Linked DNA regions of Homo sapiens. The protein of the gene in region 3 purifies or fractionates together with the protein of the main gene of each other region. This does not show direct contact. Each region holds a gene or a part of one and is shown on either strand. Other genes may lie near its edges.

Region 1 (3,655 bases), on a different chromosome or scaffold from region 3:
TTGTTGTGGGCATGTTTTGTATCTCTGTAATTAGCATGCCACTTTATGTCTTCCCTTTCAGGGAGATAAGAAGCCTTATTTGGAGATTCATAGGGAATCAGGAGCAGGGCAGTATTTCTTGTTTTGAGTACCTATCTTGTAATGGCCCTATGCTAGTCATTGTGGCTTTACCAGACTTGATTTTTTATAAATTGATTTCCTTTTTAAGTATCATTATTTTATTCTTTTAAAATACTAATGGATAGTATATGAAAGTTTCTTCCCCTTCACAGTGGGCACTTTGTCCACACTGTTTAAAGAATGCTCACTTTTGTTGTACTACTTAACTGTCCTTGCATGAGGTTTACATTCAGATAAAAATGATTATTTGGTTTATGGACACACATTTTTGAAAGTGGAAGAGCCAGGAGCTGTAATTTTACATGAAAAAAAGTTAATGGCTGAAGTGCCTTTTAGTTGAAACCATCCATTCCTAAAGTGTTCATATCTAGATTACCATATCTGTTTGGAAGGGGGAAAAAGGGAAGGATTTTACCAGTTGGTGTCAAATAAGCTCATAAATGTACAAAGACAGTTTATCCATAACCCCCCTCCCCACCCCAGGTAAAGGCCAAAGCCCTTTGCTGTTTCCCAAGGGTACATATTTTTTTCTTACAACTTTGCAGAGCTGCCTTTAACTTTGGCCTAACTTCACTTGTATGAATGGTTCCAAGGTGGATATAGGTTGGTGGGTGATATTTTGCCTTGGATTTGAACTTACTGCATACGTGCCCCCAAACCCCTACTCCCAGCTGCCCCTTGTGTATACACATAGACATCTCTTATCAGTTACTGTTAACTATAAACTCAATCCTTTCTAGGGATAGTGTGGGGTAGGATAGTATTTGTCTCAAGATCTCAGTTTGGGTTTCTACCTGAGATCTAATGTCCTCCTACCACTGACTCACTGAGTGACCTTCAGCAAGTCCTTTTGCCTTATTTGAGCTTCAGTTTCCTTACTGATAGCCTAAAGGAGTTGAACCTAGTGGCTTTCAAACTTTTTGAGGATCTCAGAACTGTTTGAAAACCTGATGGAAGCCATGAATCTTCTCCTCTAGGGAATGCCCACAATTACAGTATTTACAGTATTTCAAGGTATTTACAGATCCCCTGGAGCTTGTCCATGAACCCTTAGTAATCTTACTCAGCTATATCGTAATCTTTGGACTAGACCAGGTGTCACCAAAGTATGTATGGCCTGTGGGCCACATTCAGCCCACAGCCTGTTTTTGACTGGCTTGTGAACTAAGGATGATTTTTAAATTTTTAAAGGGTTGTTAAAAACAACAACAAAAAAACCCAGCAACGAACATGTAACAGAGACCATATGAGGCCCACAAACCTGAAGAATATAGTATTTATTCTTTACAGAAAGTTTGTCAACCCCTGACCTAGATCATTGCTAAGGTCCTTTGTAGTAATGACTTCATGAATCTGTAGCCCTGTCTAGTGGATAATTGCTAGTACTTGGTTTTCTTTTTAGGCCCAGTCATTTTTTCTATCAAGATTTTTGGATTTCAGAATTTGCATGGTTGGTTTAAATTACTGCTTTTGTTACAAGGTGTCTTTCTTTTGATCACAAATTAGGTAATAATTCTCATAGGAAATAAAGCAGATTTGGAGGCACAGAGAGATGTTACATATGAAGAAGCCAAACAGTTTGCTGAAGAAAATGGTGAGTTTCTTTAAGACTTAATGGTCACAATTGGGAGAATTTTTAAGGAAAGGTGGGCTTGACAGTTTTGTTGGTTTTTTTTTGCATTTTTTTTTTAAATGCAGACTCAGAAATCTCAAGAATGAGGAAGTAACAATGTGTTTCTATTTCTGTGTGATTTATGTTGGAGCAGTACAGTTATTTAGTGACAAATATAAAGATGCTCTCCACCTCAAACTTACATACTTTTTCATAAAATACTATGGGAGGAGTACTAAAAACTGATGGGAAACTTTTTCAGATGTTACTAAAGAAGTGCACTTGTGAGTTAGTTTGAAGTGTCCTAATTATAGTCTGAATTTTATTTTTAGGCTTATTGTTCCTCGAAGCGAGTGCAAAAACGTAAGTGTGACCAAAATACAGATATTTCAATTATATTCAAGTTTCTCAAAGTAGAACCGTATATATGAAAAGTATATAATGTATATACACATATAAAGTACTATCTATAAATGTGTAATGCTTACTGCAGGAAGAACAGCAAACATCTCTTTGCTTCCTTTTTTACATTTCAAAATAATATGAATTTTTGTTACTTAAAAGATTGTACCTTGATTATGCCTGTTGGTAACCCAGGTTAATAAATGAAACTTTGTTTACATTTCAAAAGTGTTTGACTTTTCCCAAATGACAGTGTTTGACTTTTCACAAGTGAGGTTGAGTTTGGCATCTCAGACAAGCTTGGTCAATCTGTTCTTCCTGTAATACTTCTGATCACATTAAAAAGCATGATTTAAGGGAATAGTGTCTACTCAGAAGCATAGTGAACATTTTCTAATTGTTCTTCCATGTCTGCTATTGAACTGTGGTACACCCATCATTGTTCTTCATTTATTAGGCCAAAAATTTCTTGTGGTGAGGAGAGGCTAACCTGTTTTCGTTTAGTCTCAGCTGTGCTATTAGTCCAAAGAAAACTGAATGGAGGTGTTAACGTGGCTAAGCATGATTATGTCACCATTACCCGATTAAAAACAGCTCAGTTCATGCTTGGCTGAGCAGACCATATTATTCTTGGAATTTTTTTCAGCATGTTCAGAGAGATTTCATTTCTGTTTGGAGTATCCTCTCTGTTATCACAGAAATGACCTATCTGAATTGTCATGGTGTGTATTAACATACAGTATTTTAATGATTGCATATAACACATGTAGTTGTCCAAATAGGGTTTGTAGAAAGGGCTTTCAGTACACGTATGTATGTATGCTTTCCATAGAAAGTAGTTTTCCGGCCGGGTGTGGTGGCTCATACCTGTAATCCCAGCACTTTGGGAAGCCAAGGCAGGCGGATCACGAGGTCAGGAGATCGAGACCACCCTGGCCAACATGGTGAAACCCTGTCTTTACTAAAAATACAAAAATTAGCTGGGCGTGGTGGTGTGCTCCTGTAGTCCCAGCTACTCGGGAGGCTGAAGCAGGAGAATCGCTTGAACTTGGGAGGTGGAGGTTGCAGTGAGCTGAGATCGGGCCACTGCACTCCAGCCTGGTGACAGAGTGAGTCTCTGTCTCAAAAAAAAAAAAAAAAAAAAAAGGAAAATAGTTTTCCATGTTCTCTTAGCTCAGTGTTCTGGTAATCTCTTATTAGATGACAGTGGTTAAGTTGGAGACATCATGGCAGTTAACTAAAGATTAGCAAAAGGTCAGTGTCTTGTCTTTTGTAGAAAACTGTGGTTCTCCAATAAAGTTATCAATTGCCTCTTAGGGGAGAGAATGTAGAAGATGCCTTCCTTGAGGCTGCCAAGAAAATCTATCAGAACATTCAGGATGGAAGCTTGGATCTGAATGCTGCTGAGTCTGGTGTACAACACAAACCTTCAGCCCCGCAGGGAGGCCGGCTAACCAGTGAACCCCAACCCCAGAGAGAAGGCTGTGGCTGCTAGTGACCTCTTTGCTGTGGCCCCTCATT
Region 2 (3,655 bases), on a different chromosome or scaffold from region 3:
GTAAGACTGATGTTCAAGGTCTGGGGGAGGATAGCAGTAACTGTGGGCAAGAAACTGGATGAGATTGCCAAATAAGAGACTGTAAAGTCAAAAGGGAATGAGACTGACTGCTGAAAGGGAGACCGGTGTTTGGACAGGGTGAAGACGAGGCAAAGTGGGTAACAGTAAGTGAAAAGGATACAGAAAACTGGTCATGACTGCAGTATTAGAAACCAAAGACAGTGTTGATAGCCCCAGAGAAGAACTGGAGTTATCTTAGGCCCCAGAGTTTATTGCCATCTTAAGGACCAGAGATAAGGGAGGCAGAAAGAAGCTGTCTTTGAAGAACAGTCACACACCATACCATAGAAAATTAATCTACTACCCCACAGTTCTGCCTATCTCATGACACCAGACATGCAATGATACACAACAACGACTTTCAGAATGATCTGCCATCAAACGATGTATAAAAAACAAAACAAAACCGCAAAACAAACCATTACTCCTGTCTATGAAGTTTTAAAGGATTCACCTAATTAGTATTGACAAAATCTGCCAAGTTTTGCCTTCGAAATCTTGTGCAAAACTAGAATACTTTACTTTGCACAGAGTTCTAAATTGTCCTCTTGGGTATGTCTTCCCCACTAAACTATGAGGTTCTTTTTGGCAGGTCCATGTTACAGCCACCGGGTAGCCAAGATAGTGCCTCATCACAGGGGCCCCAAAATAAGTATCAAGTGAAAGGAGGAAAGAGTGGTAAAGGTATATTTAAGAAATTATGGAAGCAAACAAAAAACATGTTCCAAAATACATGCATTCTTTAAGAAATTTCTAAAAATTTACTCTCATGTTTTTCAAGTTAATAAATGGGAACCAGATAGCACAGGCAGTCATAAGAAAGGATATACACAAATGTTTATCTTTAGACTGGAAACATTATTTAAGTTGACCTCTTTAAGGCAAAAGCTTTACCTCTTTAGTACCCAAAGCTTCTTTTGCCTAACACAGAATTAACGTCAATGAGAAAATCCATTTTATAGCCATGTTTCAGTAGTATACAGGCATTTAAGGTGGCAATGAGAAACTGATTGGGGCCAGCAGGCTGTATAACTTGGAGTGGATTTACAAGTACACCGTGGCTGGAGACAGCCTCAGACTGGACACCCCACTGAGCTCACCAGGCTCACTGCACAGAACAGGGTGGTTAAAGTGAGTATCATGGTAAGAAGCACAAACCTGCTTCAGCTGCTTAACTTTAGGCACTACACAGACTATAAGTTTTGAGGTCATTTTGACCCAGTTCCACATCTGAGATCTTAAATTTACCAGCTGTGTCTCTTGGGCAACAGACTTAACTTTCTGAAAAAAGATGATTACACCTATCTTACAGGTTTGTTGAAAAACATCAGATACAAAATGCCTAATGTAGAGGCCAGCAAAATTTCTGAAATTATTTCCATTAAAATAACTTCCGTGAAATCTTTAAGATGAATGAAAAAAGGTGTGATTCCAAATTTACAAAGCAGCAAAGACATTAAATGAAGTCTACATCTTGACATAAGGCTGGAGGGTATTACAAGAAGACTAAGAGAAATCAGCAGAATTAAATTCAGGAAGTACTTACTACATGCCTACTATGAGTCTCTAATGTATAGATGAATTAAATAAACTTTGCTATAATTATAATATTACTTTACACAATGTCTTTTAATTCACTTAATATTCATCTATGAAAAGAAATTAACACAACTATTACAAAGTATCTGACAACACAACACCCGCTATTATTAAGAGCTGCTCCACCTCCCCCACTTAGCCATGAAAGAATTCGTTTTCCAGTCACTTACCGTCCTCTTCTGAGCTGCTGCCACAGCTTCTCCTGGGGGGTGAATGAGTCATCACAGTGCTTTTTCACAAGGGGAATGTAAGAAGGAACTACAGCCCTGGCACAGCTCTGTACAAAGCGAAACACCTCCTCCTTGGACGGAGAGTCAAGATCATCAAAAAAGATACCACCAATGCCCCGCCGTTCTCCACGATGGGCTATAAAGAAGTAATCATCACACCTGGAAAACACAGCGGCGCCAAACCAGGGATCAAATGGAAAAAAACAGACATGAAAATCAATGTGAGCCTTTCAGGTTACAGCACTATCCTCAACTAATGTCAGGATGGTGTCCTTACTTGCTGTCCAACTATGAAAATGAAATGAGGACTTTAGACAGATAGATTTTTTGCAGATATCACCAAGGTAGAAAATGCTTATCCTCTTTTTCTTTTCTTTTCTTTTTTTTTTTGAGACGGACTCTTGCTCTGTCCCCCACGCTGGAGTGCAGTGGTGCGATCTTGAATCACTGCAAGCTCCGCCTCCCGGGTTCACGCCATTCTCCTGCCTCAGCGTCCCAAGTAGCTGGGACTACAGGTGCCCACCACCATACCTGGCTAATTTTTTGTATTTATAGTAGAGACGGGGTTTCACTGTGTTAACCAGGGTGGTCTCGATCTCCTGACCTCGTGATCTGCCTGCCTCGGCCTCCCAAAGTGCTGGGATTACAGGCGTGAGCCACCATGCCTGGCTGCTTATCCTCTTATTTTCAAGGCGAACAGGCAATTTCACACAAGTCTCTGTAAAGGATGTGAAACTCTAAGAACTTTAGTGAAAAGAGAAACAGTCCAATATCGATAGTGTATTTCTTGGAATAAGCTGCTGCCTTCGGAAGCACTGCTGCTTTTGTAGGAGGCAGGAGGACAGGAATCTTCCACTAACAATGACACCAACCATGGTGCAAATCCAAGCTCTCTTGAGTGAGTTCTTTATTCACCAAAGGAAGGTACTATAAACAATCTCTCAGGTCTCTTTCAGAAATAAAATTTGATGGTTCTATAGCATGAAAGACAGGGAAAAGTTGGTGGAAAAAAAGGTTCAGATGATATCTTTTATTATTTCATATGTCATATCAGACATATGAAAGTTTACCCTGTGAGGCAGCACATAAAACTATTAATCTGTTCTTGAGTCTTTTCCCCTCTATGACTACTAGAACAGGTTTCCTAAGAAGCCATTTCCTGGGCCGGACGCGGTGGCTGACGCCTGTAATCCCAGCACTTTGGGAGGCCGAGGCAGGCGGATCACGAGGTCAGGAGATCGAGACCATCCTGGCTAACACGGTGAAACCCCGTCTCCACTAAAAATACAAAAAATTAGCCAGGCGTGGTGGTGGGCACCTGTAGTCCCAGCTACTCGGGAGGCTGAGGCAGGAGAATGGCGTGAACCCGGAAGGCAGAGCTTGCAGTGAGCCGAGATCGCACCACTGCACTCCAGCCTGGGCGACAGAGTGAGACTCCATCTCAAAAAACAAACAAACAAACAAACAAACAAACAAAAAAGAAGCCATTTCCTAACTGTTAAACTTGTAAAATAGTTTATATCCTAAAAGTAGTTCTTTTGATAATCTCTGCATAAGGGTCCTTAAATAGAAAAACATGCTCAAACAAAAACTAAAAGCTATTTAAAAGGTTACCTTAAATACAGCTTCAATTGCTTAAACAACAACAACAAAAAACAACAGATGCAAATCCCTAGAACTGACGCATAGGTAGAATTCACCTTAATCGTGACTTGTTGGCCTTCTTTATATGCACATTTTATTAACATAGTCTAAAAAAGTATATC
Region 3 (5,556 bases):
CTGGGATTACAGGCGCCCACCACCAGGCCCGGCTAATTTTTGCATTTTTAGTAGAGACGGGGTTTCACCATGTTGGCCAGGCTGGTCTTGAACTCCTGACCTCAGGTGATCTGCCCACCTCAGCCTCCCAAAGTGCTGGGATTACAGGCGTGAGCCACGGCGCCTGGCCTAGGCTTTTCCACTAATGAATAAAACAATTTACTCAAGGAAATATCTGATATTAAATGTTAATATCAAATTTTCCTCTTTACTCACATTCATAGTTCTCTGAAAAGTGAGAACTCACAGGACAGAACCAAAATTAAGGAAAAAAAAATGTTTTAAGCAATGAATTCAAATTTTATATCGAAGGGCATAGCCAGAATACCAAAGTATATCAGGTGAATGAAGGTCCAGGGATAAGAGACAAATGGAAAGAAACACATGAAAGAAGGAACCCAAGATAAAAACCATATTTACTTACAGGATCAACAAAATCCATATTGAGTCCATAACAAAGCTTCTGGATTCGAGATGTAATTTTGTCAAACATGACTCGTTCTTGGCGGCCATCTAAAGAATCAAATCATGTTAGCAATTATTAAATTCATGTTAGCAATTATTAAGACTACAATGTCAAAGAATCAAATGTAATTAACATGTAAATTGACCAACATGAAGTGCTATTTCACAGAAAAGATTGAGGCCCCCTCAAAAGATTCATGAAGAGATTGTCTTCTCTGATGTCACCTTCAAAGAGTATGAATTCTATACAGACAGACGTTTACGGATAATTTCCTAAATTTTTCCCCCATCCCACATGGCAGCCAAAATTACCCTTTAAAAGTTAAACTCAGAATCATATCATTACCTCCTTCAAAACTCCTAATAGTGGCTTATGATCTCCAGAATAAAAGTCAAAATTGTTATAACAATCCACAGGCCAGGCCTAGTGGCTCACACCTGTAATCCCAGCACTTTGGGAGGCCAAGGGAGCGGGGGGGGGTGTGGATCACTGGAGGTCAGGAGTTCGAGATCAGCCTGATCAATATGGTGAAACCCCGTCTCTACTAAAAATACAAAAAATTAGCTGGGCATGGTGGCAGGGGCCTATAATCCCAGCTATTCGGGAGGCTAAGGCAGGAGAATTGTTTGAACCCAGGAGGCGGAGGTTGCAGTGAGCTGAGATCACGCCATTGCATTCCAGCCTGGACAACAAGAATGAAACTCCAACTAAAAAAAAAAAAAAATCCACAGAATCCTATACCACTTGTCCTGTGCACCCACTTCCCAATTTCACCTCCAACTCTCCCACCTTCCTTCCTATTGTACCTTGACAACTTGGCCTTCTTGCTATATATCTCCTTTAGGTCTTTTGCTCAATGTCATCACCTTCTCAATGTGGCTTTCCCTGATGATTCCATTTTAAATTGCAATGCCCCAAATAGGACCCTTGCTCTTCTTATCCCCCTTCCCCTTCTGTGCTTTTTCTCCATTGCACTTACCCCATCTGACATACTATATATTTTACCTAATATTTTTCATGATTTTGGACTTAGATTATATCTTTGTCCTTCTAGACAAAAAAGTCTTACTACTCTTAGTTTAACCTCAAATAGTAGCTCATCCGACCTTTATTTATTCTTACCAGGAATAGTGAATATATCCAACCACCAAACAGCCTTAACCTTAGACAAGCCACAAAACACAATCAGTCATTTCACAGATCTTCATTTGTAGAAAGGGGTTAATTATTATATCTATTTTACTTGCCTAATCAGTTTACTGTGACAATAAAATTAGATAAGGTAAAAAGTGCTTTTGTTGTAACAACTTTGGCATAGTTACAACTATACCTCGTTATAAAATAAAGCTGCTCCTATGGGGGAAAAAAAAATCACAGTATGTGATACACAATAGGCACTCAATAAATGTTAGTGTCTCACACTGATTTAGTTTTTGTCTCTTTTGTGCACCTACAATCCATTGTAACTATAGGCTGAGTATCCTTAATCCAAAATTCCAAAATCCAAAACACTCCAAAATCCAAAACTTTTTCAATGCCAACACAATGTTCAAAGAAAATGTTCCTTGGACCATTTCAGATTTTGGATTTTCTGATTAGGGATGCCCAACCAGTAAGTATAATGCGAATATTCCAAAATCTGAAACAAATCCAAAATCCGAAACACTTCTGGGCCCAAGCATTTTGAATAAGGGATACTCAACCTGAAGTAACCAATAAGAAACATGCTAAATATGTTTACATTTATTTGGCCCTCTGATTCACATCTGTATTCTCAAATTTAGTGCCTAGAACAAGGCAAGTTCTCAAACATTTGATGAAGAATAAATGAACAATAAGACATCACTATTAACCCATTATCACTAGAACAAGTTGCTTTTTCTTCTACACTGATATGTTAGCCCCTCTCTTTCTGATCACCATTGTGATAATTTTCTCATCAGGCTCACATCTGCAGCATTTAACTCTGAAATGGGGTAAATTAACTGGCTGGCACTGGGACTGAAACCTCAGTGCTCTAGCAATTGGATAACTAAGCAGGCAGGTAACTGCAAAGCAACATTAGCGTTCTGCAATTATACATGCAGTGGGGGGGGAAAGCAACTTAGCAAAAAGAAAATTCTACAACTGCCAGAAGTTCTGAAGTCAATCAGGAAACTGACAAAAAAAAAAAAGTGCATTGGTAATTATCTTAACTCACACTTGAAAATAGGAGGCAGACTAAAGATCTAAAGGTCCAATGACACACAGTTCTCTATTCTGTCATTCCACTTGGTTAGTTTTTCAAGCCAGATGTTGATTTTATCACATCACTAATCCCTGCTTCTCACTGCCTACATTATCCTCTTCTCTCAAGCAAAGCCTTTCTTAGTTTGGCCCCAGATCTCTTCAACTGTTCCCTGTGAAATATAAGTCCCAAGAGGGCTTCCCATTCCCATATCCACATCATTGCTTATACCTTACTCTGCCTAAAGGTTCCTCTTCCACCTTTCCATACATCTAACTCCTACTCACCCTCCAAATCTCACACCTCCATAAAACCTGCCTCAACCACTTTTAACTCACACTGACCTTTTCCTCTTTTAAAATCCTCTAGCCAGCAGGGCATGGTGGCTCAGCCTGTATTCCTAGCACTTTGGGAGGCCAAAGCAGGCGGATCACCTGAGGTCAGGAGTTCGAGACCAGTCTAGCCAATATGGTGAAACCCCATCTCTACTAAAAATACAAAAAAAAAAAAAAAAAAATTAGCTGGGTATGCTGTAATCCCAGCTACTCGGGAGGCTGAGGCAGAATTGCCTGAACCTGGGAAGCAGAGGTTGCAGTAAGCCAAGATCACACCACTGCACTCCAGCCTGGGCAACAGAGCAAGACTCCGTCTCAAAAAATAAAAAATAAAATTAAAAAATCCTCTAGCATACTAGTGTGATTTCCTCTTGGCTATAAACTGTCTTTCATTCTTCTCTCTTCAGGAAGACTTCCCTAATCCTGTAAGACCAAGGATGCGTGCCTTTTCCACAGGATACAAACTTTCTAATTCCCTCTGCCGAGAATGTTCAGGCCACAGATCTCACATTACTAGCTCTTAATACTATTTAGGGTTCAGCTCAAATGTTGGCTTCTCAGAGAAGCCTTTCCTGGCTACCCAATCCAAGGTTATTTTCTCATTCATCTTTATCACATGATCCTGTTTTACTATCATCTCATTAATCAGTATCTGAAATTAACTGATTATTATGTTTACTTCTTATTTCTTATATACACTTACCACTCCCACCCACACCAAGAAGTCAACTCAATGAGAAATGTAATTTAGCTTTGTTCACTGCAGAATCTCTAATGCCTACAACGGTTCCTAGCACAAAGAGGTGCTGAATAAATGCTTTATGAATAACTGAATGAATGGCCTCTACTGCCTATACTTTACCTATCAGAGTATTTATCATATTTTATCATATTACTTCTTTATTTGTCTATCTTTCTCAATTGATTGTAGGATCTTTGGAAGCTGGAACCATGTCTGCCTACTCATCACTGCAATCCCGGTGAACAGCACGGTATCCACAGAGTTGTAAAATAATATTAGCAGGCTGTGAATGGAATAGGAAGGAAGGAAGGAAGGAAGGAGGAAGGGACGGAGGGAGGGGGAGAGGGAGGGGAGGGAGGGAGGAGGGCAGGAAAGAAGGGAGGGAGAAAGGAAGGAAGGAAGCAAGGAGGGAGGGAAGGAAGGGAGGGAGGAAGAAAGGGAGGAAGGAAGGGAGGGAGGGAGGCAGGGATAGGGAAAGAATCTGGAATAAAAGAAAGATTAGAGTGCAAATGGATGCTTTCAAAGACATTATTTCGTAAACTTTTGTATCATTTTATGTGTATCCACATATATACACATGTCTGTAAAATGTTTTGTTTTTTACTGTGAGTTACAATCCAAAGTTTTGAAAATACTACACTAAATTCCAAAACAGTTTACAACTCAGTTAGCTACTTTGTCATTTACTGCAATGGTTCTCAATGTTTATTTTTTTAACCATAATCTCCTTGAGGAATGATACTCTCCCATTAGGAAAAATAGCTCAAGATAGCAGATGAAAAAAACTCATCTACTATTCTCTTCTATCTAATAATTTTCATATGGATTGTTCCTAAATCCCTAACAATTTTAAGTTCTTTGAAGATAGAGCTGCCTTCTCCATTACTGCCCTCACAGTGTTTAGCAAGACATTAGCATATTCAGTAGGTACTTCAAAGTCAACTTCCAGTTGCCCTTGTTATTAAAAATAACAAAAACTAGCCAGGCGTGGTGGCACACATCTGTAGTCCCAGCTACTGAGGAGGCTGAGGCAGGAGAATCTCTTGAACCCAGGAGGCAGACACTGCAGTGAGCTGAGATCACACCACTGCACTCCAGCCTGGATGACAGAGCAAGACCCCATCTCAAAGAAAATTAACAAAAACTGTAGGAGTTAGTCTGCTATTCCACTGACATGCCAAAAATAAGGGGGTACAAAAAAAGTCCAGAAAACCAAAAACCCTATGCATATTAAAAAACATTAAAATATAGAAACATAGAAATATAAAAAAAAAAAGAAACAAACAAATCTAAGTACATGTTGTATATTAAGTCTTGCTGAATGCTACAATGGCAGAATCTACAGCATGAACCATCTGGATCAAATTGTGCTCTATGAAGGAATGAGAAAATAAGCTCTGCTTTTTAGAGCTAGTTATAGCTAGCACTTTGTGGTTTTTTTTTTTTTTTTTTTTTTTGAGACAGAGTGTCACTCTGTCGCCTAGACTGGAGTGCAATGGCACGATTTCAGCAACCTCTGCCTCCCAGGCTCAAGCGATTCTCCTGCCTCAGCCTCCTGAGTAGCTGGGATTACAGGTGCAAACCACTACCGTCCGGCTAACTTTTGTGTTTTTAGTAGAGACGGGGTTCCACCATGTTGGCCCAGCTGGTCTCAAACTCCACACCTCAAATGATCCACCCACCTCAGCCTCCCAAAGTGCTGGGATTACAGGCGTGAGCCACCATGCCCTGCCACGCCAGGCCAAGG
Region 4 (3,655 bases), on a different chromosome or scaffold from region 3:
CTGTGGTTTTGATGAGGTTCAGATTTCATAAAGCAGCACAAAACATTGTGCGGTGGGTTTTTTTCTTTTCCCATTTTCCTGGTTAATTTTCTTCACCACTGCCAAGAGTAATTTAATCAGATAGGCCTCTAGAGGACCCTGCTCTTAAAGCATAAAGTCAGGCACTGCATATCTCTCTTCCTTTTTATATTTAATTTGACCATTTGCCATGCCCACTATTTGAGTGGGTGTGGACGGGGAGGTTGGGAATAAGGAAGAGATGGAAGAGGAGACTAATAGAAGATGTGCTTTTCATTCAGATTTGTTTCTCTTTTCCTTCATTCATTCCAGAAACTTTTATTAACTCTACTGTGTGCAAGATACTGTACCAGGCTAGCTGGGAAGACAAAACACCTTAGGCATGCCCTTACCCTCCTGGGGTCCTTGCACTGTCTGGGGAGGCAGGATTCTGGTTGTCTAATGTCTAATGTGGTAAGCGCTGTGAATGTATGCAGTGTTATGGGAAGGGAGGATTTGTCTGGGGAAGGGGCAGGGAGGGCATCCTTTGGTCTAAAGGGGAAGTTGGAATGAATTATTCAAGTGGAGAGGCCAGGGTAGTAGTGTTAGAGGCAAATGAAAGAGCATGCTTGACCAGAGAGGATAGAGCCTGTGTGCTTAGAGCTGTCAGCGTTTTGGCCATTGTGCCAAGATCAGTGGAAAGACATTGCAGATTTTAAAAATCAATGAAATATTTTATACATTATAAAATACATGTAAGATGTAAAAATGGTATATTGAACACACATATTCACCATCTAGCTTAAGAAATGAAACATTACCTATACCATTAGCGTCCCCTGCTTACCCTTTCTAGTCTTATCGTTCTTCTCTCTGCTTTTTTTTCTTCCTCGCTTCTTCCCAGGAGTAACCACTAGCCTGAATTTTCTATTTATATATTTTTTGCTTTTCTTTCTATTTTTACTACATATGTATGCATCCCTAAGTCATGCATAGTTTTGCATGATTTTGACCTTTGGGTAGTAAGAATCAGCATGGATGAATCTCACATAATGTTGAGCGAAGATGCTAAGTTGGAGCTACATATAGTGTGAAACCACTGAAAGGCTTTGCACAGGGGAGTGACATTTAATTTGTATTTTCTAAAGATTACTTTTTATGCAGTGTGGATAATGGATTGGAGGTAAACAAAAATGGATGGGGAGAGCAGTTAGAAGGATGTTATAATCTAAGTGGTAACTTATGGTTGATGGTTGTAACCTCTTAAGAGAAATCATAGACAAATTCTTAGCCATAGCCCTTTAGGATCTTATCCCTCCCAGCTATTCAACCTTGCTCTTCCCTGAATCTGGCAAGCTTGTTCCCTGTTAAGGTCTTTCCCTGTTCTCTGTAACCTGAGCCTTTCATCTCGGGTCTGCAGAGTTCAGTCTTTAACTGCACTCAAGTCTCTGCACAGAGAGGTCTTTCCTGGCCATTTTGTTGAGAAGTGACCCCCTGCCCTTGTCATTATTTTCTGTTCTCCTTACTCTGCTTTTTCTTTGTAGTTTTTAAAAAAATTGCAACTTGAAATTATACATTTATTTATAGCATGTTTGCTGCTGCTAAAATATAAGATCCATGGGGGCTGGTCTTATCTAAAATTGTAACCTCCTTTCCCCCCGTGCCTAGTACATAGTAGGTGCTCAATAAATATTTGTTGAATAGATGAGTGAATTGATTGAAGTTGGGATAATGGAATTCATTCTTCCCTTTTCAGCTGTTTCTCAAACATCTCTCTGGCTGTGAACTTTTTTCAGAGCTTGAGGTTAATGCCCAAACCCTGTCTTGCTGTCACCTCAAACTCAGTATATATAAAATTACATTATTTTCCTTCCTCCAGTCTTTCACTTTTGTTAATGCTGCCATCACTGACAGTCCTCAGGCACAAAACCTTGGTGTTATCTTGCAGTGTTCACTACCCCCGATCCCTAGGGTGCTGTATATTCCCATTTATGTGTTTGAGGAAGTTTTCTGGTTACTGTTTCACCTCTGCTTTTTGCCTATTGACATTTTAGCCAGCCCTCAGGGCCCTGCCTCAGTCTTTCTCTTCTGAGCACGAAGCTGAATTTCCATCCAAGCACCCCTTTTGTACTTATGTTTATAGTTTGTTTTGTTTTGTTTTTGAGACAAGGTCTTTCTCTGCTACCCAGGCTGGAATGCAGTGGCGTGATCACTGCTCACTGCTGTCTTGACCTTGACCTTGTGGGCTCAAGCCATCCTCCCACCCCAGCCTCCTGGGTAGCTGGGACTACTGTTATAGGTCACCACACCTGGCTAATTTTTAAAATTTTTTATAGAGACGGGGGTCTCGCCATATTTTCCAGGCTGGTCTCGAACTCGTGGCCTCAAGCGGTCCTCCTGCCTCGGCCTCCCAAAGTGCTGGGATTACAGGCATGAGCCACCGTGCCTGGTGTAATTACTCTTTTTTTAAATTAAAAAAAAAAACCCACACAGTCTCCTGATCTGTTAGTTCCTTTCCCATGTCCTAATATTTTAAACATAGTATTGAGTTGCCTTTCTTTTCTTTTTCTTTTTTTTTTTTTTGAGACAGGTTCTCACTCTGTCACCCAGCTTAAAGTGCAGTGGCACAATCTTGGCTCACTACAACCTCCACCTCCTGGGAGCGATTCTCCTGCCTCAGCCTCCTGAGTAGCTGAGACTGCAGGTGCCTGCCATCACACCTGGCTAAATTTTATATGTTTAGTAGAGACGGGGTTTCACCATGTTGGCCAGGCTGGTCTTGAACTCCTGGCCTCAAGTGACCTGCCCGCCTTGGCCTCCCAAAGTGCTGGGATTACAGGCGTGAGCCACCACACTCAGCCTATTTCCTTCTTTATGATCCCATTTTTAACTTCACCACCATGTGTGTCCTATCTTTAGCTCTGTCATAGAGACCTAATGCTTGCTACTTGGTTGTGCAACAGAAGACAGCTGACAGCAACAATGCCATCAGCATGGTTTTCTTACCTTCTATCTTTGATGTTGATTCAGGCTGGATTCTCTTGAGCCGGTGGAGGCTCCTGCAGTTTTAGAAGGTGAGTAGTCATAAGGTGTCACCTGCTGCATCACACTGGAAATGTGTGGAGGCAGTGGAGTCTGAGCTGATGATGAGTATTTACTTAGTAGTTCTCTGTACCTACCTAGCAGTGATTCAGGTTGTAAAGAAAAATTTAATTGGTTAAATTATTTTAACCAATGTTTGAGTGCCTATTTTACTGTGATGAACATAGATGTACAAGATGTTTTGCTCATTAGGAGTCTCCAAAATCTAGCAGGTATGTGAGTTATGTAACATTCTTTTTAGTAAATAAAATATGGTAAATGCTGAGTTAGAAGTAGGTGTGAGCTGCTGTTGAAGGCAGCATATGACTCATTGAAGGACTTATCAGGGGAGGCTTATTTCGTAAGGGATGTAATGGGGCACGTCTTGATGGATAAATGGAAATTCACAAGTGGAGAGGGGCTTTAAGATCTGTGTATAGGTAATTCATGAAAACACAGTGGAATCAATCTAGGCCCAAATGTAGCTCCAGTAAAGGGTGAAACCAGCAGGGGTAGAGCTTTAGTTCCTTGATATCATGGCTTAAGGTAGCCAAGAAGTTCTGATTCAACAGTGCCC

The links. The genes of interacting proteins can lie anywhere in the genome.
Region 1: the proteins of RRM1 (region 3) and RAB14 fractionate together in Homo sapiens (co-fractionation; one large-scale study listed by BioGRID). This does not show direct contact.
Region 2: the proteins of RRM1 (region 3) and CPOX fractionate together in Homo sapiens (co-fractionation; one large-scale study listed by BioGRID). This does not show direct contact.
Region 4: the proteins of RRM1 (region 3) and PEX7 purify together in Homo sapiens (co-immunoprecipitation; one large-scale study listed by IntAct). This does not show direct contact.

Annotation. Positions count from the first base shown.
Region 1 is NC_000009.12:121,181,370-121,185,024, reverse strand, and holds part of RAB14 (ras-related protein Rab-14), read left to right. Parts: intron 1-1,626; coding exon 1,627-1,714; intron 1,715-2,064; coding exon 2,065-2,095; intron 2,096-3,451; coding exon 3,452-3,629; 3' UTR 3,630-3,655.
Region 2 is NC_000003.12:98,583,612-98,587,266, forward strand, and holds part of CPOX (oxygen-dependent coproporphyrinogen-III oxidase, mitochondrial precursor), read right to left. Parts: intron 2,608-3,655; coding exon of another isoform or gene 2,607-2,607; exon of another isoform or gene 2,055-2,606; intron 2,049-2,054; coding exon 1,830-2,048; intron 1-1,829. UniProt on the Homo sapiens protein: Catalyzes the aerobic oxidative decarboxylation of propionate groups of rings A and B of coproporphyrinogen-III to yield the vinyl groups in protoporphyrinogen-IX and participates to the sixth step in the heme biosynthetic pathway.
Region 3 is NC_000011.10:4,096,989-4,102,544, reverse strand, and holds part of RRM1 (ribonucleoside-diphosphate reductase large subunit), read right to left. Parts: intron 553-5,556; coding exon 464-552; intron 1-463. UniProt on the Homo sapiens protein: Provides the precursors necessary for DNA synthesis. Catalyzes the biosynthesis of deoxyribonucleotides from the corresponding ribonucleotides.
Region 4 is NC_000006.12:136,839,437-136,843,091, forward strand, and holds part of PEX7 (peroxisomal biogenesis factor 7), read left to right. Parts: intron 1-3,655. UniProt on the Homo sapiens protein: Receptor required for the peroxisomal import of proteins containing a C-terminal PTS2-type peroxisomal targeting signal. Specifically binds to cargo proteins containing a PTS2 peroxisomal targeting signal in the cytosol.